3 separate regions of the Homo sapiens genome follow, and regions 2 and 3 are each linked to region 1. The links come from fine-mapping of genetic effects on plasma protein levels. A gene starts in region 1. Each other region holds a variant in brackets. All regions are shown on one strand. Distances are from middle to middle.

Region 1 (8,181 bases):
CTTAATCAGATACTATCCTGAGCACACTGGCAGGTTCATCATAATATCAATATATACCTCGCAGGGCTGATGTGAAAATTAAAAGAGATGATATATATAAAAAGTGTTGGGCAAACCATAAAATCCTTACAAAGTTTCACTATGATTATTTCTCTTGGTTTTACACAGGGCTTGCTCAGCTGTCCTTAGTGGCCATGTCTATATTAATCCCATAATTTATCCTTAAATCACCGAAGTCTTATTTGCCTGGCTTTTTCCATAGCCGAAGGGAAACTGAAAATATGCCTTTTGTAAGAAAGCCTTAACACCTGCTGCTAAAGGGCGCTAAACCATCTGGATCGTCAAAGGAGTATAGGCTCACTTACAAAAGACGTAGATTAATTTGGACATTGTTTCCCTACATAAACCAGGCATAAGGAGGCAAGCAACCCAGGGAAGGATAATCATGCTAAGAGTGGAAGCACTTATTAGAAATAATTACCATGTAATTATCCACAACTTCCCTGGAGTCTGTAGCCTGTGGCTAGTCTTAGGAGGTGCCCCTTCCTTACCAAGTACAAGGAGACTGAAGCACTTCAATAAGTTGATCAGGGCATGTGTCTGTGTCTTAGAGCTTGGTTACCGCCACCTGGGCCTACTTCTCACTTAATGAAGCCTTCAATGCTTATAGCTGAGGTGCAGAACAGCTGTAGACTTTCTTCAGCTGGATCTACCACCCACCCCTCCCTTTTTTAATAGCACAGTGTTGTTTTGCAAGTGTGTGGGTGTGACACATCTGGCTTCGTTCCTTAAGAAAAGTGTTTATTGAACAATTAATTGTGGTGCATGGGGGCTGTGACATTTCTCTTTTCGCTGTGCCTCTGAGCTGTGTTTCCAGGCTACCCGGTGGCCCCATTGAAGATCAGTAACAACACTGAAAAGGAACAATGGCTATAGAAGCCTTGACAAGTGCAGGGAGAGACCTAGACACTTCCAAGAGGGGCATGATTGCCTACAAGGTTAATCAATTCCCCTTGTTTCCATTGCAGCTCCACATTTATCTTGCTGGCAGCAGCTGCAAATGTAAAATCAGACCTACAAACTTAGACAATTGGAATTGTATTTACCTGATCAAGATGTGTAAATGATCTATTCTCTGTGTCTTCTTAACTGGAATTTAAGGAGTTCAGCAAAGCTCCGGCTATAGGTCAGTGAGAAGCATGTTTTTGTGTGGTGTCCAGATACAATTTAGTTGTCTTGGATAGACAGTTGGAAAGAACTGCAGTCACAGCCTAGAATCTTGATTGTCATGATCACCATTATTATTGTTACAGCTGCCATTTTTTGAGCCTTTATATATGACAAGCACTTTATATGTACTACTATCTTATTTCTTCCTCTTGATAATACCGCAAGATAGCTAATAGTATTTTTATCATGTACAGATGAGAAAACTGAGATTAAGTAACTTGCTTATGGTCATTAGGTGCAAGGTTCTAGATTCAAACTGAGTCTGACCCATGCTCTGAACCACTAGGGCTTAACAAACCCAAACCTCACTAGAATATGCAGGTGCAGAGAACACAAGGGCTTGTGATCGACCTGACAGTTTTAAATCTTGTTTTCAGGAAAGCCAATCAAAGAAGGCTTAACGAATCTCTTTGCAAACCGATTTGTTGGCCAACCTTTGAATATTCTCAATACAAGAGAAGGGCTAAAAATATCTATTGCAGCAGTGAAGTGGCCTTATTTTGAAAATGAGTCTTCATAGAAGTAATCAAGCTAAAATGAGGTCATTAGAGTGGACCCTAATCCAATGTCATTGGTGTCCTCATAAATAGGTGAAATTGGGACACAGAGACAGACACATGGAGGGGAGACACTGTGAAAAGACACAGAGAGAAAGCCCTGGAAGGCTGAAGCAGAGATTGGGTTGATGCTGCCACAAGCCAAGGAACACCTGGGGCTACCAGAACCTAGAAGCAGCGAGGAAGGATCCTTCCCCTCCAGGTTTCAGAGGGAACCTGGCCCTGCTGGCACTTTAATTTCAGACTTGTAGCCTCCAGAACTATGAGACAATAAATTTCTACTGTTAATAGCTGCTCAGTTACAACCTCCCTGGAAAGCACATACTCCTGTCCTATGGTTCTATTCTGTTCTGTACTATTTTGTTCTATTTTATTCTCTTTCATTAAGAAAATGGATTTCCAGGCTGGGCACGGTGGCTTACACCTGTAATCCCAGCACTTTGGGAGGCCAAGGCAGGTGGATAACTTGCGGTCAGGAGTTCGAGACCAGCCTGGCCAATATGGTGAAACCCCGTGTCTACTACAAATACAAAAAATTAGCTGGCTGTGGTGGCGGGTGCTTGTAGTCCCAGCTTACTCGGGGGGCTGAAGCAGGGAATCGCTTGAACCCGGGAGGTGGAGGTTGCAGTGAGCTGAGATTGCGACATTGCAGTCCAGCCTGGGCGGCACAGTAAGACTCTGTCTCAAAAAAAAAAAAAAAAAAAAAGGGAAACAGACTTCCCAATCTACTAATTTTGAACAACATCAGTCTCTAGAGCTCAGCATTCTTGCCCTTTCCAAGCTGGCTCCAGTCTAATTTTCTAACCTCAGTATTAGTTAACCCCCGACCCACCCTGAACACGCCTGGTGTCGCACAGTCCATCTGTCCAAGAGCACAGCATCAACCTGAGTGCAGGTGGCCTGCTCATTGCCTGTGCTGCCACCTTTCCCCTCAGTGGCTATTCATTTTTTAATGTCTAGCTTCAAGTCACCTCCTCTGACAGGATTCCCCTGGCTCTTCGGGCAGAGTCATTTGGTCCCTGTCCTCTGTTCCCCCACACACACACTTTATCAGCCCCAATTACAGCTCTTATATTGTATGATGGGATCAATCTGTGTGTCCCCTTCATCCCTTCCCCACAACTAAACTTCAAGTTCCCTAAAGAAGACTATCTTTTTTCTTGTTTTTTCTTTTTAATCAAGTGTCTAGCACAGAACCTGACACACGACAAATCCGAATACAGGGTACCCCAAAAAGGTCAGTGCAGTTTTAAGCTTTAATAACTTCTTAAGTCGAAATGCTACAAACTTACAAAACTCATTTGAACGTTTACTTCTTTTGACTCTGTTTTAATTATTTTAATAAATGTAATTTTCTCTTCTGGTTAATGTATGCCATATTTCACTCAGGGGAACTGAAACAAAAATTAAAGTTAAAACGTGTTATTCAACATTCACAGAGATAAATAGTGTTAAATTAACTTTCAAATGGTGTTCTTATAAGTTGCAGCATTTATAGCCTTGAGGTTACTAAAACTGCAGGAAGACTTTTGGGACACCCTGTTTTTGAATAAATATGCTTACAGCATGGCTCCTCCTGTGTTTACTGTAAAATTCAGTTTAGTTTTTAAGTGGTTCCACGTGGGCACAGGTATTCTTTGGCCAGTAGTTGTCCTTATACTTAGACCCAAGGAGCCCTTGTCCAGGGCCCACACTTTAGAAGGCAAATTCCAAATTCCCTCCCCAAATGGCACTGAGCCTGCTTCAAGGGTCTGCACGCCAGCAGCAGTGTTATCTGCTAATGTCTGTACTCCCATGGGCGAACATTGCTGACTCTGGTGTTCATACTCTTGTGCCCAAGAGGTGGCTGGGGGACAGCTGCTTCTGGGAAGCTTGACCGAGCTTCCACCAATGGACTAGAGCCCTGTGGGAAGAGAGGAGGTGGCTGCAAACCAGGAACTGGAAATCGCCTCTCCCTGCACCATCATATTTAAGTGCAGATCATCCAAAGTTTCAATCTGGCCTTTCATGTCAATTCCCAAGGTATATTTGTCTAGGTAGGAAGGTAGAACTTATTGTACTTAATCATTTGTTAACTTTGTTTATAACTTTTAAATATTTAGGTATCTGGCCTACAGATCTCTGTTTGTACTTTTGCCCTGGGTCCTGCATATATTAAAGGTGGGCTGATTTTGGCCTTAAAAGAATTATTTTCCCACAAACAGATTTTTCTCCTTAAAGAGCTAGGTGGGTAGGAAGTACTTCCATATGGAAGGTATGATAGCAAAGAATGACTGCAGTCACTGAGCACATACTTTGTGCTGGGTGATTTACACATAGTTTTTCAGTGAGTCCTCACAACAACCCAATAAAGTAGGTACTTAGGAGAAAACAGATATTCAGTGACATTAGTTTGTTCCAGCTCGTAAAACTAGTGCTTTAGTTAGCCTTAGTTGCATAACAAACTACGCGAAACTGAAAGTGGCTTAAAACAATTTTTCCCCCTGACTGTCGGGTTGGCTGGGCTGCTCTACTGCGGGTTTCCCTGGGCTCACTCCTGCAGCTAGCTGTGAGGAGATGGAGGTTGGCCCGGGACAGTGCAGAAGATTCCCCGTGGCCTCTCCCACCTGTCTGGCAGTTGACGCTGCTGTTGCTGATAATGATGACCCTCCTTTATTTTGTGTTATCTACTTGCCATTGCAACCTCCTTGCCTTTTTTAGTTCTTGCTCCCGTACTGTCTGGCTCGATGCCCAGCACCTGGTGGTGGCTAATAATATACACTCAGGTCACTTACAAGCAATGTGACCCTGGATGGGTTACTTAACCTCACTTAGTTTGTGTCCCCCAATTGCAAAATGGGTATAATGGTACAGAACACATCAGGTGGCTCTGAGACTCCAGCGCAGTGATTCAGGAGAGTGCTTGGCAGGACAGTGGCACTTGGTGCGAGCTTACTGCTAGTGCAGCTGGAATGTAGACCATCAGCGAACGTGTGTTGCCTTTTTAAACAGTGGGAATCAAACACCACTCGCTTTCCAAATGTAAATCCTGGGCTTGCAAGTAAGTCCTAGAGTGCAGAAATAATTTCAAAATACAGGGTTGAAATTTTAAGATAGCAGCTTTTAAAAACTGGGAGACAAAATCAAAATAAAACAAAGGGACAAACCAACCTGAATGGCACCCCGCCGATGCTCTTCATTAATTTTTAAGATTCCACCCTGGGGCTGCTTGCTTCTTCCAGCATGGGAAGCGCTGACTTGATGCGGCCAGGTTTCTGGGACCAGGAGGTTGGGACACGACGACGCACTTTTTGCCCTGTGGGTCTGGGTCATGTGAGCCTAGAGGAGCGCTTAAAGGCTCGAGTTCTGCAGGGTCCTCGTGACTGGGTGGGGCTGCCTCACTTCTGCCTGATTTGGGAAGCGCTGCAAGGACAACCGGCTGGGGTCCTTGCGCGCCGCGGCTCAGGGAGGAGCACCGACTGCGCCGCGTAAGTGCCGCCTGCCCTGCGTGGGTCGTGCCAGCTCAGCGGGACAGGTCCTCGCCTCGGTCCCTCGGACTTAGGGAGCGCGGGGCAGGTAGTCTCAAAAGCCCTCAGCACCAACAGGGGAGAAAGCACCGTAGAGTGAGACTGGAGTGGGGTGGTCGTGGCCGAGTCAAAGTTCAAATTGGAGCATTGGGGATGTACTGCGTGCGCCCAGCCGAGGGAATACTCTTGAAGTTTCCTGGCACAACTGTCGCACCCGGGGTTCTTCCAGGCTAGAAGCCGTCTCCTACTCCAGGAGCTCCTCCGGGGAAGTACGAAGCTGTGGGGTCCTCTGCCGCTCTTAGCGCGGGAGGGTGGCGGGTGCAGGACACTTTCCCTTACTCCCTCAACGCGTGTTTTGGGGATGTGTTGATTTCGTGGGTGCTCAGAAGCAAGAGAAGCGGAAAATACCTTCTATTTTGAACGTGCCCAAAGCAGGGAAACTTGGCTTCTGCCTAGGAACGCATAGGAAGACTTTTATTCTTGGAATGTAGGATTAGCAGAAACCAAGGGCACAGGAGACAGGTGGAAGCAGCTCCCTGTGAAGTGATACAGAAACAAAAGGACTTTGGAATATTTGTGGATTTAAATCCCAGTTCTGGCCTTGGCTAGTGAGTGACCTCGGGCAAATTATTTAAGCCTACTAAACCTCAGTCTTTCCATCTGAAAGATGGAGATAATAAGTTTTTCTTTTTAAAGAATTGTTTTATTGGAAATAGAAATAACATACAGAAAATGCCTCCCTAGCACGGGACTTGGCTTTTCAGCTAAGTGTAATTTTCCTTATCAGTTATGATTGATGATGAAGTCTATGGTGAAGACAGAACAAAATAATGTTTAAAACTCTGGCCATATAATGACTGTGGCTATGCATGACCCGTGTGCAGTCACCTCTGAGCCCCCCACCTTCACTGCAACCCCAGTGGGTCCCAAGCAAGGTGCTTGGGTTTTGGAGCTGGACAATTCTGTGCAATTCCTGGTTCCGGTATCCACTACTTGGATGACATCAGGGACGTAACTTATCTTCCACAGCCTCAGTTTTGGCATCAGTAAATGAAAAAGGAGCCCCTCAGTACTTGCCTTTCCCTTCCCCGGCTAAATGTACAACTCATTTTTTTTCCATTCTTTGCTTTGGGATGAGTAAGAACAAAGATGTAAGCAGAGTAAAAAGTCCATTGAGAATACATTTTATTAGCTTGGTAAATAACGTTTAAGAAAGTTGTCCAAAAGGAGAATTGGAGCACTTTTGGAAAAGTACACTGCACCGGCTTTGTTGGCATATGAAAGTCTGCATGGTCGTCAAGACCGTTTGGCTAACTGGGCATTCTAGATGTGTACCTCATGCTAGTCTAAGTACAGGGGCAACCCTTTATAATGTAGTGTCAGTGTTCTTAACCAGATGTTGTTTTATTAATCTTTTATAGGAGATGATTGTTTGGGAGGGGCAATTGATCCCCCAATTTATATAAATCCAGTTTATAAATCACTTTATAGTGGGATTCTACTAGCCTGAGAAATAGGTGGGTTTTGACTGACAGTTTGAATGACTTAGAAGAGTGTTAAGAAAGTCCACTGGGTTTACCAGTTCACTCCCCACAAAAAATAAAAACAAGAAGCAAATAATATAACAGAATTCTAAAAATGAGTTTGTTTTTGTTTTGGGAAGCATCTAGTTTGTCAGAGGAAACACTGAGTGTTGAATACTACCCTGGGATGCACAGAACTAAGGCAATGAGAGGGGAGGAACTCAGTTCTTGCCCCAGGTATCATCAGATATCTGTTTATTAGCACCCAAATACTCAAGGTAAATAGTAATGACCCATTCTTTCTTTTTTTGAGACAAGAGTCTCACTTTGTCACCCAAGCTGGAGTGGCACCATCTCTGCTCACTGCAACCTCCATCTCCCGGGTTCAAGGGATTCTTGTGCCTCAGCCTCCTGAGTAGCTGGAATTACAGGTGTACACCACCATGCCCGGCTAATTTTTGTATCTTTGGTAGAGATGGGGTTTTGCCATGTTGCCCAGGCTGGTCTCGAACTCCTGACCTCAAGTGATCCTCCCACCTCGGCCTTCCAAAGTGCTGGGATTACAGGCATGAGCCACTGTGCCTGGCCAGTGACCCCTTCTTAATAGGAAGTATGGTTCACTAAAGAGCAAACATGATTGTTTTAGTTTACCATTTCCGATGGCTTTATAATGTGAGATTTTCATTGACTGAACTAAGAACATTTAAAAGAAGTAGGCAAGCTTCTCAGAATTAGAAAGATACCTCTAGAACAATGACTCATTAACGTCTATATTGACTTGTGAGAGAGGTAAGCTGGGCAAAAAGCTAAGAACTGTACTTTCCTGGTAAAAACAGTAGTGGAGTTTGAACTTTTATACTATATTTGCAAGCTCAAAGATGTAAGCCTTAATAGACAGTTCACAAGACAGCTGTTACAGCGTATCTGAACTGAAACCAGGGTATTGAGATTGCTCTCCCTTAAGAGATATTAGAGGTATAACCTTGAACATGAAATCACATGCTTTCATTGCTTTAACTCAGACCCTGGGGTGCAGGACAGGGTGGTGGTAGTGAAAGAGGGGGAAGGACTGTGTCCTTAGATCTTGGAGCCTGAAAAAGCAAATTCTTAGCAGCTTATCTTTCCAATATAGTTGGAACTTACCTCCTACCTTTTTCTCTCTAGTCTGATTCTAGTTATTGGTTGTCTTTAAATTGCTTAGAATTGTTTACAGGCCAAAATATTTACTTTGAACCCTAAAGGTAAGCTCTTCCTCCTTTCCTTTTTGGGACTCTGTATCCCATTACCCCTCTTTCAAAAAGATAGTGCCACATATCTTTTTGTACTGTATGATTCTTGGGAGAGAATGTAACCCAGGTCCCAAGC
Region 2 (8,181 bases), 55 kb after region 1:
GGCGTTTGGGCTCTCAGTGCAGAAGGGAAGGTGTCACTGAGAATGGATTCTTTGTTGTGCCTCTGTTGGGAATATGTGTGTTAAATGGAAGAGTCCCAAATTTTAGTTTAAACAGCTAAAAATATATAACCATGCCCCAGGCAGTATGCTAGATGTCTGGCAGCATGCACAAGCCAAGCATCTACATTTAAGGAGCTTTCTGTCTCTTGTTGGGAAAAGACTTGACTGCATGATAAGAAGACACCAGCATATGAGGCACAGCCTCATTCAAAGAACCAAAGATGATCAGTACTTTGCTCATAGTGGAGAGTGGTTACTGAGGTCTGGGGAGGTTTTGTAGGATTTAGTCACAGCCCTGTAACACAGAGAGGATTTGGGTAAGTTTGCTTGTGTGTGTTCTGTAGCCTTAAGTGAGTGTTCTGTGTGGTCACTGGTTTTACTGTTTCCTCTAGATACAGCCAGAAGATGCCCCAGTAGTTCTCTGGCTACAGGGTGGGCCGGGAGGTTCATCCATGTTTGGACTCTTTGTGGAACATGGGCCTTATGTTGTCACAAGTAACATGACCTGTAAGTATCCCTTGCACTGTATTTCCTATAGAATCTTTCATCTGAGCCTCATACCTGCTCCAAAACTAATTTAGAGTAAACACTGAACCACTATGAATAGCTTAACCGTTCCAGATTATCAAAACACAACTTTCTGGCAATATCCATCCGAGAAGGAGGAGCCTCGGGGTGAGTGTCCTGACTGGGCTGCTTTCTCCCTTGAAATTTGGGTGAAAAGTTCTAATCCGCTTTCTTGCAGTCTGCTGCTGACTCAAGCATTCTGGGTTTGCAAAACAGTTGGTATTTATTACTATTTGGGACAGCTCTTTGCAGTGGACTAATGGGTGGAATTATATTCTTAATTACTCACATGAACTAAACACTTTATGGTTCAGTCACACTCATTATCTGATAACTTGGAAGCAAGACGCTATTCCCGGTGGGGGCTGAGGCGGAGGAAGGATAAAGAAAGAGCAACATCTGGCTGTCACTAAGTTTACCTTCATCTCATTTTGTTTTTTTTTTTTTTTAATTTTGTTTACTTCCCCTGGGTCAGAATTTGGAGTGTGAGCCAGTTTGTGACTCAGTATAAAGGCTTATGTGCCAGTTTTGTTGAAGTAGTTCTGTTCAAGAGATGGAGCATTAAGGATGATTGATTTAATTGGACATATGGATATTATTGCAGAGGTGGTTGGTGGGTGTTTTTTCATGAACCAGCTTTGTTCCAAGCTTTTGCTGGGTTTTGTTTCCAAGCTTTATCTCAGGTGTAGAAACACTCTGGGCTGGGGGAAAGTAAAGGAGAGGAGTGGGGAGGGTAAAGGTGCAGGTGCCTGTTCCCCACCATGAGAGTGTGCAGCACTGTTAGAGGGTACGCCAACAGCTCATGAGGACCGTGGGGTGTGTTGGGCTTCTGACCACCATGAGGCCTCGGTGGAATGCTTGTCCACGACTCTATCTCACCCCTCTTCTTTGTTTTCACAGTGCGTGACAGAGACTTCCCCTGGACCACAACGCTCTCCATGCTTTACATTGACAATCCAGTAAGTCCGGGATGACCCTGTGAGCTGTCAGTGCTGGCGTCTCCTGTCTTTTATTTTTTCCTTTTTATTAAGTACATTTAAAAAATAGATTTCGTTTTTCCTTTTGAAAATAGAATTTAATCTGTAAAATTAAAACCATTTTGAGATTTAGTTTTTCTGTTAACATGTATAATCATATCGGAGTTTGGCAATTTTCCTTGCTGCCTTCTCTCATTTCCTCATTTTTTTTTTTTCTATTGAGATGGAGTCTCGCTCTGTCGCCCAGGCTGGCAGCTCACTGCAACCTCCGCCTCCCCGGTTCAACCTGGTTCTCCTGCCTCAGCCTCCCAAGTAGCTGGGATTACAGGCGTGTGCCACCACACCTGGCTGATTTTTGTATTTTTAGTAGAGATGGGAGCGTGGGGTGGGGGGTGTTCACCATGTTAGCCAGTCTGGTCTCAAACTCCTGACCTTAGGTGATCCACCTGCCTTGGCCTCCCAAAATGATAGGATTACAGGTGTGAGCCACCACGCCTGGCCCATTTCCTTATTTTTAATCCTATGAGATGTCCTGTTCACTGAATTAGGTAACCCAGGAGGAGGAATTCATTTCTTTTCACTAACAGTTTGGGTTCCTTATATCACAGGTTATTATATAGTGTCAGAACTTGTAATCTTTCACAATCGTCTAATCTTTCACATAGAGTTATAGATATAAAAAGTCAAAATGGGTCTCCACTTTTTTTTTTTAATTTTTATTTTTTTGAGATGAATCTCACTCTGTCACCCAGACTGGAGTGCAGTTGCACCATCTCAGCTCACTGCAACCTCCACTTCCCAGGTTGAAGCAATTCTCCTGCCTCAGCCTCCTGAATAGCTGGGATTACAGACTTGCGCCACCATGCCTGGCTAACTTTTGTATTTTTAGTAGAGATGGGATTTCACCATGTTGGCCAGGCTGGTCTTGAACTCCTGACCTCAAGTGATCCGCCCACCTCAGCCTCCCAAAGTGCTGGGATTATAGGCATGAGCTACTGCTCTTGGCCTCCTTCACTTGTTAAGACAAGCAACATGCTTCATCTCTGGACAAAAAGTGATACTCTCCTTGGGGAGGTCTTCTGATATTGGTTCTATTAAGGTGCAAAATAGGAGAGAAACTTAGGGTCAGCTTCTACAGATTTGGAGTATCTTTGCCCTCTTAACTAAAATCTTTAACTTCTCTCACTTTTCAGATGGTCCAAAAGAACACAAATAAAAGCGGAAAAAAATGTCAACATGCTCTTTCCCCCACCTTGTTTTGTCAGCCTTCCATTTTCCTCATCCATAACTGTGTATTTAAGTAAAAGATGAATTAAACATCCTTGGGTGTTTGGAAAACAAAAACACAAAAATCTTTATACCAGATAGGGAGTGCATTCCTTATGCAAATTGTTGACATAAAAATAGTAGCTTCTTCTTTTGAATTTGCAGTTCAGTTTCTTTTGAATTTGCAGTTCAGTTGTCTGTGAACTTCTAGGTTCTAATAAGAAAATATTAGTTTAAAATTAGTCTTAATTATGTTAAAACTCCTTACCTACTGAAGATGAAATGGCTTAATGGCCATATTTCTTGCAAATAAAGACAAGAAGGGGGAGGAGGAGGAGGAAGAAGAAGAAGAGGAAGACAATGTACAACTACCTTTTTCTTCAGCCTAAAGAGTTTCTTTCTTTTTTTTTTTTTTTTTTTTTGGAGACGGAGTCTCGCTTGGTCACCCAGGCTGGAATGCAGTGGCATGATCTCAGCTCACTGCAATCTCCGCCTCCTGGGCTCAGGTGATTCTTATGCCTCAGCCTCCTGAGTAGCTGGGATTACAGGTGCCCGCCATCATGCCCGGCTAATTTTCGTATTTTTAGTAGAAACGGGGTTTCGCCAGGCTGGTCTCAAACTCCTGACCTCAGGTGTTCCGCCCGCCTCAGCCTCCCAAAGTGCTGGGATTACAGAAGTGAGCCACTGCGCCAACCAAGAGTTTCTTCTTGGCAGGACAGAGCCATGCACTCTCCAGGTTTCAGAGAGGAGACAACTTTGGATCTTTTGATACTGTAGCAGGGGATGGAAAAGATGAATCCTTCTTCCTTAAATCAACATCTGGCAGGGTCTCCACTGAGGCACAGGACAGCTCAGCCACTGACCCCAGGGCAAAGCTCTGTGTTGCTGTTTTATTTGGGCTTTAGGGGGTGGAGAGAATAGGTGGCACCTAGCATCCTCCTGGGAGGAGGGCTAAAGGCATAGGGGGGCAACGGCAAAAATCTGAAGTCTGAGCTTGGCCTTTGGAACAAGGTCACCTTCCAGTGTGGGACCTCTCTGCAGGTCCCTAAGGCATGTGTTTCTCTGTGTTTATACCTGCGTGTTTATTTCTCCTGCAGGTGGGCACAGGCTTCAGTTTTACTGATGATACCCACGGA[T/C]ATGCAGTCAATGAGGACGATGTAGCACGGGATTTATACAGGTAAAATGCTCCTGCTTTCTCTTGGCTTTCCTAAGACCAAACATTTTTCTATCTCAATAGGAAAATTATTCTAGTGTTGGAATTTTTATTGACTGAGCCTTATAGTCCAATTCCTGAAGATAATTTAAGGATATTTTCACATCCACACACACAGAGCAGAATTTTTCAATTAAAGATTATTTTTTAAACCTTTCAACCAGACATCTGAAAGGTTTCTACTTGTTTTCCAAATTTGTATTTAACTTTGCATTTGCAGGGAGACAACATCTTTTCAGATATTTGTTTGTTTCTCAGGATTCTTCTTTTCGTGGCTTTTGGATGCAATTTTTTACTTTTTGCTTCTATTTCATGACTTTTCCAGGCTGAAAACTTAGCTTGTTAGTCTCTAGTATTCTCTCTTCTTCTTATGAAAGTTTTGTTTTGCTTAAAAAAAAAAAAAAAAGGAAAAATGTAAAGTTGTAAGTCTGGCCAAACAGTGTCCATATAATTTCTCCCTTTTTTCACTCATATTAATCATTGCTATTTTTAGCATTTTTAAAAAAAAGCAAGTGACCTTTCTTATTTGGTCAGATTTTTCCAGTCTACAAATTATTACTAGAGACCAAGTCCTAGATTCTTTCTGGTCACTAGGGCACCGCTTTATGTATTATAATAATTTACTAAAAGAACCCTAGTGGCCAGAAGGAGTTAACTAGCTCCCTACCCCACACCTCCACCAAGCACTCTGTTAATTACTACCAATCCTCAAAGCGAAAGTGCATCTAATAGGAGTCAGAGTTTGCTGATCTCTGACAAAAGCTTTCCGTTTTACTTTTCTTTCTCTCTGAGGCAGATAGGTGGCCGGGGGGAGAGAAGAAAGAACTACTTCCAAGCCCCTTTCCCAAAGATCTCTCCCTCTGCCCACCCAGAAAAGAATATGGCTGTTGTCTTCTCCACTTTTGTTTGTTTTTCACATGTTCCATGATTCGATCACTTCTATTCAGTTTCTAGGGGGATGCCCAGGGCCCCACACTTCTGCTTCCACATACAGTGGGGTCCTAGGGACATATTTGCCAAGATGCTGACGGGGTGTTCCCCCCAGCACCTCCTCCCCTTCCCTCCACAGACGTAACGGACGGCAGTCCTCCTCACAGGCTTCTTCAGAGCCAGGGCCAGGGCTCTCTTGGCACTGTGTGCTCTCTTTCTTCAGATTAGAAACCTACTCCCCGCCCCCACCTCCCATCCCTCTTTGGTTTAAATCCAAACAAGCTCAGTGGTTAACTAGCAAACACCCTGAGGGCAGAGGTTCTGTATTGAAGAGATGCATCGGGCCCCCTCTAAGACAGAGCATCACTGCCAAGCCGTTTCTGTCTTTCCTTCCCCTCCCCCAAAGACAGTTACAGCTTCCAGTTGCCCCTCCATATGGGGATGTCGACTGCTGACATGTGGTCCATCTCCTCTTTCCTGACATGTAAAGGGAACCTATTTCAAAGCATCTATTGTTTATAGCTGTTGTAGTTCTTTTTGCTTCGGGCTCTTAGAACTGGAAAATAGCTAATCAAGGGTGGTGCAGAAAACTGATTTCAGCTGTTTCCTTTATAGTTTACACTATTCATTTCCCTTTGTGACCACATTCTTCTCTCCAGCTCTCCAGATGGGTGTTTGGAATAAGAGGGTCGCTTCAAAACCTGCAAATGGGCTACTACAGGTTTAAAGAGTGGAGCTTTCATTTTCTCCCTTTGAAAACCAACTTTCTTTTTTCAGAAAATCTCATTCTTTTTGACTATTAATAGTGCATGGCTGTAAGGAGACATTTACCGTTCACAGTTTTGCTGCTTTTGTGTTTGGAAATAAAACTTTTTCACGAACAAGATGTTAAAATACTCTCCCACTTTTCTTATTTGGAATATGCTATTTAGTCACAATGCCTCTCTGGTTTAAAACAAATTATGAAATGTATTAACTTTGATTTGGAGTACACTAGCTGGTGCCAATCTCCTTCTGCCATTGTTTACCAATTGCCTATTATGTGCCAGCTGCTGTTCTTGGTGCTGGTGAGACAGTAGTAAGCAGTCCTCAAACCCCCTGCCCTCCTGGTGCTCAGTCTAGTGGTGGACCTATAGTTATTTTCTTAGCAGCCAAATGGAAGTGCTGCTATAGTTTTCTCCTACATGTTGGTTTGCAATGGGAAATGATATGTAGTGTTGCTAAACAAAGCTTCATAGCAATGCAGCTAGGAAGCAGGCTTCCTATATTAAATGAGAAAACTCTGTGTCCTGTGCCAGGTGGAGAGGATCATGGCTCAGCCTTGCTAGATGTAGAGTGAATGCAGAAGAGGCTCCCTTCACGGGTTCCAACAGAGCAGCACTGCCAGGATTCCTGTTGCTGAGCTTGTATCGGTCCAGTGCAAGGCAGATGAGCCCCAAAGTGGGGCTTAGCCTGTGAGGGGTTTTGGATTTGCCCAGGAAAGAATTCAAGGGTGGCCAGGTGTGGTGGCTCACACCTGTAATCCCAGCACTTTGGGAGGCCGAGGCAGGCAGATCACCTGAGGTCAGGAGTTCCAGACCAGCCTGACCAACATGGAGAAACCCCATCTCTACTAAAAATAGAAAAATTAGCTGGGCTTGGTGGTGCATGCCTGTAATCCCAGCTACTTGGGAGGCTGAGGCAGGAGAATCACTTGAACCTGGGAGGCAGAGGTTGTGGTGAGCCGAGATCACACCACTGCACTGCAGCCTGGGCAACAAGAGCGAAACTCCATCTCAATTAAAAAAAAAAAAAAAGAATTCAATGGTGAGATGGAGGTAGAAGAAAATAGCTTTATTGAAGGGGCAGTGTTACAACTCCGTGTCTGCTCCTGCAGGGCTACTGCCTAGTCCGAGTAGCAGCTTAGGGCAATTTTGCAGTTGTATTTAAACCCACTTTTAATTACATGCAGATTAAGGGTTGGTTCATGCAGAATTTTCTAGGGAATGGATGGTAGCTTTTGAGTCTTTGGGTCATTGCCATGGAAAGGGGTGGTAACGCCTGGGTGTTGCCATCACAATGGTAAACTGACATGGCCCACTGATAGGCATGTCTTATGGAAAGCTGCTTCCGCCCAGGCCCTGTCTTAGCTAGTCCTCAATTTGATCCAGTGTCCAAGCCCTACCTTTGTAGTTGAGTCCCACCTCTTACCTCAAGTCCACTGCCAGTGACTGTAGGTACACTTTGCTTGGCTTTTTTGGCATGGAACTTTTGCTTAGATTATCTGAAACTCGATTATCCTGAATGTTGCTTGTGTTTATGATTATGCTTCTGACTCTATTAGAACTGACCAGATTCCAGTGCTGTCTTTGGGTCTACAATGCATGATCATGTCCACTCACCTTTTCTGCCCTGCATCCACCCAATCTCTGTTTAAAAACTTATCTGAGGAATAATTTTCTCCTAGTCATTCTTCCTTGCAATCTGTTTCTCTTTTTGGTCCTTTAAGGTACCTTTCTGCGAGCAGAGAGCCCTTAACTAAAATTCTGTTTATGAGACAAGTCCTTAGCACAATGCCAGCAAGGTGGCCAAATGGAATCACCAAGAAGAAGCATGCTTCTTGTGCCATGTAGCTCTTGTACCTGAATAAATGCATGGAGTGTGCACTTGTGAACACACATGCTTATGTATTATTATTATTATTGAGACGGAGTCTCACTATGTCGCCAGGCTGGAGTGCAGTGGCGTGATCTCGGCTCACTGCCACCTCTGCCTCCCAGGTTCAAGCAATTCTCCTGCCTCAGCCTCCTGAGTAGCTGGGACTACAGGCGCCCACCACCACACCCAGATAATTTTTGTATTTTTAGTAGAAACGGGGTTTCACCACGTTGGCCAGAATGGTCTCAATCTCTTGACCTCGTGATCTGCCCGCCTCGGCCTCCCACAGGTGTGAGCCACCGCGCCCGGCCACTTATGTATTATATATATGTTTAGCAGATCTGCTTCTAAAATTTGTAATTTCATGTGGGCTTGATTCTAGATTCTATTTTCTAGAAAATGCTCACCATGTAATAAGAAGAGTTCTTGACTAAAATACAGTTAAATGAGCAAATGGCATATGTAAATCTAATTTACTAAATTTACTTTTTTCATTCTTCACTCTCTTTTAAGAAACAGGAGTGCTACCAC
Region 3 (8,181 bases), 26 kb after region 1:
GTTTTCTAATCTGAAGATGAAGGAACTGGACCACATGAACATTTAATATCTTGTAGGTCTAAAATATGGTTCCTTATTTAGATTCATCAATTCAATAATATTTGCTTAGTACCAACTATATGCACTCTCATTATGAACTGTACTCCAGGCAGAATGAAATTCAGATATGATAATAAATATTATTATAATAGCATCTCACATTTATGCAGAGCCTTCTGATTTGCCGAAGAGAAAATTTACTTTGAGTCTCTGGGATTCTGTGGCTTTAGGAGATCAGGACATATCTTAACAGAATGTTAGAGAAAGAAGAAGCTATTCTAGAAGTACAAATAGAACCTTATTCCTAGGAAACAGAAGAGGTCATACCCAGGTAGTAATAAGGAATAAGCACTTTTTCTGCCATGTCTAGCAGTTGCTTCACTTTGTTTTTTTAAAAAAGCAACAAAATTACCTTTTTTCTGAGTATAAAATTTTTGTAGAAAATTTAGAAATTATTAAGAAGTATTAAATAAGGAAAAAAACCATATATCCAATCTAATATCCTGCTTTTCTTTACCTAATAATATTTTATCATATTTTTCAAAACATTCTTAGTAGAATCATTTTAATTGCTGTATGTATAATAATTTTATCTTTTTGGTATATAGTAACTTATCTGATGTCTTACTGTTGGAAATTTTATTTATTGACAATTTTTATTATTCTAAAGAACACTGTGGATAAATAGCTTTGTTCCATATCAAAAATCATACATTGGACACATGATTTTCAACTTTAATATTTAAGGTTTAGTAAGACAATTTTAGCAAATTATATACTTTTGACCTTTAGAGTCTTTGATTCTGTTGATATTGTTTTGTATTTACCCAGATTTTATTCTGTTTCTAAACATTTATTAAGAAGAACATTTTGTTTGAATTCTTCAATATGATATGTTTGAACTGGAAATAGCACCACTGTTTTCATATTATTTCAAGTAGGTATGATAAAGTGTAGGGTTAACAATTTTCTTTTTCAACTTTCTGTGGGAGATATCCTCTGTCTAGTATAAGGTTTGTTGGTTTAGAAATTGCTCAATAAATGTTCAATAAATAAAAGGACTCATGCTAATTTAGGATAAGCAAAAACATATGAGAGGGTGTTTAAAAAACCCACTTCTCCATTTATGATAATAGCTTTCATTCTCATAAGGAGAGATAACAGCTAAGCACAGTTCAGGAATTCTGACTGTTGAATGAGAACTGTAAAATGAAGTATGTCGGTGCTTTAATTCACCTGAATGGGAAACCATGACTCAGATAGTTATTTGATTAAATGTTAATGAGATCTACTAAATTGACCCAATTCTTACTTTTATGTATTAGATTTATATCAATTAAAACAGGACCAGTTTTACCTGTTTTCCTTTTTTAACATCTTTGAGTCAACATCTGCTTACAAGGGAAGTGCTGTAACTACCCTGGTTATTTAAATATTAATGGCTTCCATTAAAGGGAGCTAGGGATTGGCAGCAGGAAGATTGAGAAATTAGATGGCATGATTGGTTTCTTGTTTCTGTCCCCAGGGGAAAAAAAAAAAACAAAAACCTCTTACTGGAAGAGCTTCTTCCATTATTTTTTTTTAATATTGCATATATATATATATATATATATATATATTTTTTTTTTTTTTTTTTTTTTTTTTTTTTTTCTGAACCAGTTAGAGAGTAAGATTGTTGATTTCAGGCATCCCTTGAAAGTAGCTGTGCTATAAAAGCATCAGTGTAAACAAGTTCAAGTAATTTAAAAAAATGTTTTCACAGTGCCATAGAGGTCATTACCCTGGGGCTTCTTGGGAACCTAATTTCAGTTCCTAAATTCATTTTGTTCTTTATTATAGTCAGTAATAGGCAAAAGCATTTTTTAGCTCCATCCTGGATTTGGTTGGCCTTATTTACATTAAGTGTGGGGAATTCTAGTAAGTTAACCCTGAGAGACATGACAAGGGTTATATATTCAATCACATTATAATTATAAACCTTTATCTTACTGGGGAAATGTGCCTGAAAAGCTTTTAAAATTTGCTATAACCAATATTTTCATGTTATGCCAAATTGGGTTGTAATAAGCATGTCGTTAAAAGATTTTTACACGTTTTGTATTTTTAAGATGTTCTAATGGCTTGGCATTTTAAAGCACTGAACAAAAGCAGGCATTATATTTGCATAATTGTGTATCTCTTTTTGCATCCAGAAATGTGAATGTGTGGAGTACCCTTTCATTTCATGTATTTGATTTAGAATTTACAGCTAAGAACATAGATCATGCTTAAATAGCAGGAGTGCAGAGTCATGTAACGGCCCTGGTGTGCTTGTCATAATTCCCTACTTAGCAAGGTCAGGATTAGGGTGAGACAAGAGAGGCACTACCTCAGGTGTAAAACTTAAGAAAGTGTCAAAAAAAATTCAAGACTAGTAATATGTTAATGTAATAGTTAAAAAACTGTATAATGCAGAGAAAAATTAATGATAATAAAAATGGTCAACATTTTAGATCAAGATGAGATCTGACCCTGCATCTGTACCTCCCTCGCTTCTCCCTAGTCCTGGCCTTCTCTACTTTCATGTCCTTGCATGAGACACTCTTTTGATTCAAGTTTTCCTTACCTGAATTTGGTGACAATAGTCCTCACTTTCCTGGTGACAAGGATTTTTTTCCTTGGCCAAATTTTAGTCAGGCTTCTGAATCTCCTGCTAGGCCTGTTTGTGCACGTCCTTGTAAAATCCAGTTTTAGCAAAGGACACTAGCTAAGTCGTTTTACCAAGAACCAGCAACATCAACATCCGATCGCCTCAATGTCTGACCAGGTTTCTCATCCTGCACCATCCCCCAGGTGATGTCTGATCACCCTGGCCTGTCTTCAGTGAGAATCCTGTTAGGTTTAGCCAGATCCACCTTACCCCAACGCTTCCTTTGAGTAATTTTCCATCCACTGACCCCCACACTGCTCCTTGGCTATAAATTCCCACTGGCCCGTGCTGCATTTGGAGTTGAGCCCAATCTCTCTTCCTTGCTGCAAGACTGTTGACTGCAAGGTCCCTGTGCCTGTCATTATCCTGACAAAGTCTTTGTCTCCATGCTTTAACAAATACCATTCAGTCGTTTTTCTGTAACACTGGTGGAATTAGGAGATTCAAATCATCTACAAATACATGGGAAAGCCCACTATAAATATAATTTACATATTGATGTTCAAGTAAATAATTATACAGTTTTATGCCATTATTATTATAATCTCAGATGAATATTCTAAGCAAACATCAGATCTGAAGATCTTTGGAAAGCTTTGTGCTAATGGTTTGGGGCCTAATGTCTTTAATTTACTTATCAGCTAGCAATAAGGGGAGGAACCTAAGGGTAGTTGTAGGACCCTCCCCCCTTTCTTTCTTCCTTCCTGTTTTTGTTTTTGTTGTTGTTGTTCTTTGATACAAACTGGGGCTTTATAAGAGATAGAGAACATAACCAGAAATCCATTGCTTCTTTGAAATTTCCCTGAAAGGTGTGCATGGATGCCTGAGGTCTCACCTTTGCTTAAGCTGTTTCCACCCACCCATGATGCCTTTCCCATTTCTCCCACCTGTCTGAGAACCATTCACCTTTTATCCATATCCAACTTGGATAAGGCCTTTCTGTGATCTTTCGGCCTGAAATGTGCTTTCAATCCTCTGCCCTTCTGTGGTGGCATAATGGTTTCTACCACCCATTTATGGTCAGTTACAGAGTTCTTGTTGTTCTGAGTCTTTATCTAATCCTCCATTGAATTTACTTTCCAAACTGCATTTTAAAAAATGTCAGTGGTTCACTCCTATAATCCCAGCACTTTGGGAGGCTGAGGTGGGAGGATTGCTTGAGCTCAGGAGGTCAAGGCAACAGTGAGACGTGACTGTGCTACTGTACTCTAGCTTGAGCAACAGAGCAAGACTCTGTTTAAAAAAAAAAAATCAGTAATTGAAAAATTACTGACACTGTAAATCCCTTGAAGAGTCTCCCATTAGCCTTTGAATTTAAGAGTAAGCAGGGATTGGGTGTGCTTATTTATGGTGCTATCCAAGGTCCTTGCAGAGGGCCTTTACACACAATATTTTTTTTAAGTGAATAAATGAATTTCTTGCATGTAAAAGGGCCAGGTAAATATTTACTCTTATGATTCATTTTTGGAATGCTGTTTTTATCCTAGACCCTGAGAGATGGTTGGTGCCATGTGGAAGGTGATTGTTTCGCTGGTCCTGTTGATGCCTGGCCCCTGTGATGGGCTGTTTC[G/A]CTCCCTATACAGAAGTGTTTCCATGCCACCTAAGGGAGACTCAGGACAGCCATTATTTCTCACCCCTTACATTGAAGCTGGGAAGATCCAAAAAGGTAAGTAAGTTTAATTAAATCAGAAAACCACTGGCATGAGTTCAACAGTTTCTCTTTTTTTTTTTTTTTTTTTTGAGACGAAGTCTCGCCTGTCACTAGGCTGGAGGTCAGTGGCGCGATCTCAGCTCACTGCAACCTCCGCCTCCCGGGTTCAAGCAATTCTCCTGCCTCAGCCTCCCAAGTAGCTGGGATTATAGGCACAAGCCACCATGCCCAGATAATTTTTGTATTTTTAGTAGAGAGGGGTTTCACCATGTTGGCCAGGATGGTCTCGATCTCTTGACCTCGAGATTCACCCACCTCGGCCTCCCAAAGTGCTGGGATTACAGCTGTGAGCCACTGCACCTGGCCAATAGTTTTTCTTAAAACAAGTAACCCATAGGATGCAAAATATATTTCAGTATTTTTACTCAGTTGTTTTATTTCAAATATATATATATATATTTTGTTTGTTTGTTTGTTTGTTTGTTTGAGACAGAGTCTTGCTCTGTTGCCCAGGCTGGAGTGCGGTGGCGCAATCTCTGCTTACTGCAACCTCTGCCTCCTGGGCTCAAGTGATTCTCCTGCCTCAGCCTCCTGAGTAGCTGGGATTACAGGTGCCCACCACCATGCCTAGCTAATTTTTGTATTTTTAGTAGAGATGGGGTTTCACCATGTTGGCCAGGCTAGTTTTGAACTCCTAACCTTTGGTGATCCACCCTCCTCAGCCTTCAAAAGTGCTGGGATTATAGGCATGAGCCACCGCACCCAGCCTATGTCAAATATTAATGACTTGATGTCATATGTTGTCTGAGTTTTTAGCTAAAATGAGAATTAGCCGGGGTTGAATTACCTGCATGGTTGAGTTGCAGCATTTTATTTATAAGACTAGTAGAGTGCCTGTCCCCCAGTGGTCACTTAATGCTAATACTATCCTTAAAACTTACTATGAGTCAATCACTGGTTCCAAGCTTTCTGCATGAACTTATTTAAACATCTCAACATCCCGGGGAGGTGGACCCATTTTACACATGTGAAACCAAGGCAGAAAGAGATTGAGCTACTAGCCAGAGTTCATGCAGATATCAGCTGGTGTGTAGGCTTCATACTCAGCCTCACTGCAGCCTCCCTGCTGTGCCCCGTTATCCAGCAAGTCTGGGCCTTAGTTTTCTCATTAAGATAAGATGGAGCTTTAACAACTTACCCAACTTACAGAGATGTTATGAAAATCCAATGAGATAAGGCACGTGAAAATCTTTTGTACTCTATAAGTTGTTCTCCAAATATGAGTGTTTGCAATTGGCTTTATTTAGAGATTGTGGGTTTTTCTATTGTTATTACCAATAGGAAAAAAGGTATCACTTAGTGTTATCAGAGGCTAAAATTTATGACCTGCATCTGCTCTTTTTTTTTTTTTTTTTTTTTTTTGAGACAGAATCTTGCTCTGTTGCCAGGCTGGAGTGCAGTGGTGCAGCCTCGGCTCACTGCGCTCTGCACCTCCTGCGTTCAAGCGATTCTCCTGCCTCAGCCTCCTGAGTAGCTGGAACTACAGGCATGTGCTACCACGCCCGGCTAATTTTTATATTTTTAGTAGAGATGGGATTTTGCCTTGTTGGCCAAGCTTGTCTCAAACTCCTGACCTCAAGTCATCTGCCTGCCTTGGCCTCCCAAAGTGCTGGGATTATAGGCGTGAGCCACTGCCCCCGGCCCTGTATCTGCTCTTAATGCTTCTTTGCGCTTAATCACTGTGCGAGTAAATGATTTCAACTTTCTGGACTTCAGTAGGTTCCTAAGCTATAAAACAGTAGACAGGTAGCTATTCTGAGGAGCTGTTTGCAAAGAGCAGCAGAAAAATGGGGTAGTGGCTGGAGGGAGCACTGGGGTCCAGGAAGGGTCTTTAACAGAATAGGAGAGAATGTTTGTTTGCTGATGGAAATGATGAGTGGGGAATTGGTTTGGTTTGGGGAACCATTGTTGGAGACTGTGTTTAAGAAGGTGAGAGACAGGGATCTGGCACACAGGGGCCCCAAGGTTGTCCCTTGTCACAGGTGGGAAGGCAGAGATGGTGCCTGTGAAGCTGGCAGGTTGGCAGATGTGATGGGAATGAAGAAGAACACCGGAAATTTTAGACAAATGGTCATTTTAAAGATCAAAAGCAAATCTAAATACTCTATAAAGAAGTTTAAAATAAAGCAAGTTTTATTCGTTCAAAGTGTTCTCACAGCCAATAGGATGTCATTGTTTTTTGGTTTTCGTTTTACACGAAGACATTCTTGTATTTTAAGGGTATGTGTAAGTGCTGTTCATATGTCTTTTTCTGAAATACACATTGGCTTCAAGTTTCACCATCTCTTTTCTAAGGAAAGATGAAAAACTTTGATAATGTATTTAGTGTATTTTAAAAAGGACTGATTTTTACCTCACAAGAGAAGTCTTGGGAAGATGGCTGCCCCACCATATGGGCTGATACCATTAAGATGCTTGTGAAGAGGCAAAGTGTCGTTAAACCCTCCAAATTGGATTACATGCACGTATTTCAGCTTCCTTAACAAGTGGATTCTGATGGCTTAGATTTCTGTTCATTAACAGTAAATCAAAGCAAACCATTTAATGTAGGGATGAAAAGGAGTTAAGTAATTGTTATAACCAAATTCTACCAATCCACATATGAGGAAATTGAGACTGAAATACTTTATCCGAGTTGCCCAACGGGATGTGTGCAGTAGAGTTGGGTAGCAGAGATGGGTTTAGGACCCAAATCTTCTGACTTCTGCTCTGTGATTTGCCTACTATAATTTAGTTCTGTTTGTTTCAGAAGCTTCTAAAGTGTTCTTCTAAAGTGACCAGATGCATACACACAAAACAATTAAGGAATTAGGCAGTGCATACTAAAGTACTAAAGTATTACATTTAAAGTAAGTGCACTGGAGATTCGGAGGAGGAACCTATCCCTGTCGGTTGGCATAATCGAGGGAGAAAATACTAGAGCTGTCGTAGTTGTAAAAATAATAAGTAGCTAACATTTAGTCATTATATCCCTAGTACCTAGCATAGTACCTATACATAATAGGTATGTATAAATATGTATGGAATTTAAATTTGGGTACCAACCATGTGCCAGGCATTGTGCTTTACATCCATTAGCTCATGTAGTTCTCAGAGCAACCCTAATGAAGAATCCATAAGCATTGTTCCCATTTTACAAATGAGAACACTGAGGCCCGGAGAAATCAAATATCTTGCCTAGGGCCATAAAACTAGTAAGTGGCAGAGCTTGAATTAAAACCTATACTGGCCAACCCCAGGGCCCATGGTATGAACCACTATGCTATATGAGCAGCTCTGAATTAAACCCTATACTGGCCAACCCCAGAGCCCATGATATGAACCACTATGCTGTATGACCAGCTCTGGACTTCAGAGTGTCGGGTAAGATTTACGTAAATAGCGAAAGGTCTGTGCGTACCAAATGAGAGAAACAGCTTAAACAAAGGCATTAAGTGAAAGTGACCATGGTGTTTCTGTATCATACATCTGGTGGAACCAAGTAAAAAGAATACAGAGAAATCCATCTGAGAGACTACTGACATCTCTCCTGTTCTTGTCTTTCTTGCCTATGAGCATTTCTCAGTTATGGGTATTAGCAGCAGCCAAGAAAGATTCCAAGGGAGGTAGTTTTATCTTCCACCCTCCCATGTCAAGATTGGTAGATCTTCATCTGATGATTGACAACATTTAAAATATTAAATCTGTGTATAATATCACTTCCTGAAGTTATGTTACACAGTCAAATTCTTTGAACAGAATT

Direction of the effects. Positions count from the first base shown, and alleles are read on the strand shown. Strength reflects both the effect of a copy and how common the allele is.
For the plasma level of the protein whose gene starts at base 5,146 in region 1, allele T in region 2 goes with a higher level than allele C (moderate association).
For the plasma level of the protein whose gene starts at base 5,146 in region 1, allele G in region 3 goes with a higher level than allele A (strong association).

Evidence for each region. PIP is the posterior inclusion probability: the model's chance that the variant is causal. Protein levels are from antibody-based Olink assays in UK Biobank. Linkage for the fine-mapping came from a reference panel and not from the study's own genotypes, which makes the PIPs less certain.
Region 2: its variant is fine-mapped to the plasma level of the CPVL protein (UK Biobank, PIP above 0.99). The variant lies in the coding sequence of CPVL. If it changes the protein, the assay may bind it differently, which can mimic a change of level.
Region 3: its variant is fine-mapped to the plasma level of the CPVL protein (UK Biobank, PIP above 0.99). The variant lies in the coding sequence of CPVL. If it changes the protein, the assay may bind it differently, which can mimic a change of level.

The regions. Positions count from the first base shown.
Region 1 is chr7:29,143,502-29,151,682 of GRCh38, reverse strand. CPVL (carboxypeptidase vitellogenic like) reads left to right here and starts at 5,146. Exons shown (of 13, transcript NM_031311.5): 1 at 5,146-5,254. It also overlaps a transcript of CHN2 not described here.
Region 2 is chr7:29,088,489-29,096,669 of GRCh38, reverse strand. It overlaps CPVL (carboxypeptidase vitellogenic like), which reads left to right. Exons shown (of 13, transcript NM_031311.5): 4 at 453-567; 5 at 1,528-1,586; 6 at 3,968-4,047. Among named protein-coding and RNA genes, the nearest start is that of CPVL-AS1, 12 kb to the right of the region's middle. The variant T/C (reference allele first, on the strand shown) is at 4,007.
Region 3 is chr7:29,117,106-29,125,286 of GRCh38, reverse strand. It overlaps CPVL (carboxypeptidase vitellogenic like), which reads left to right. Exons shown (of 13, transcript NM_031311.5): 2 at 4,216-4,394. The coding sequence starts at 4,226. LOC128966558 (a long non-coding RNA gene) reads right to left here and starts at 2,852. Exons shown (of 3, transcript XR_008485572.1): 1 at 2,645-2,852. The variant G/A (reference allele first, on the strand shown) is at 4,299.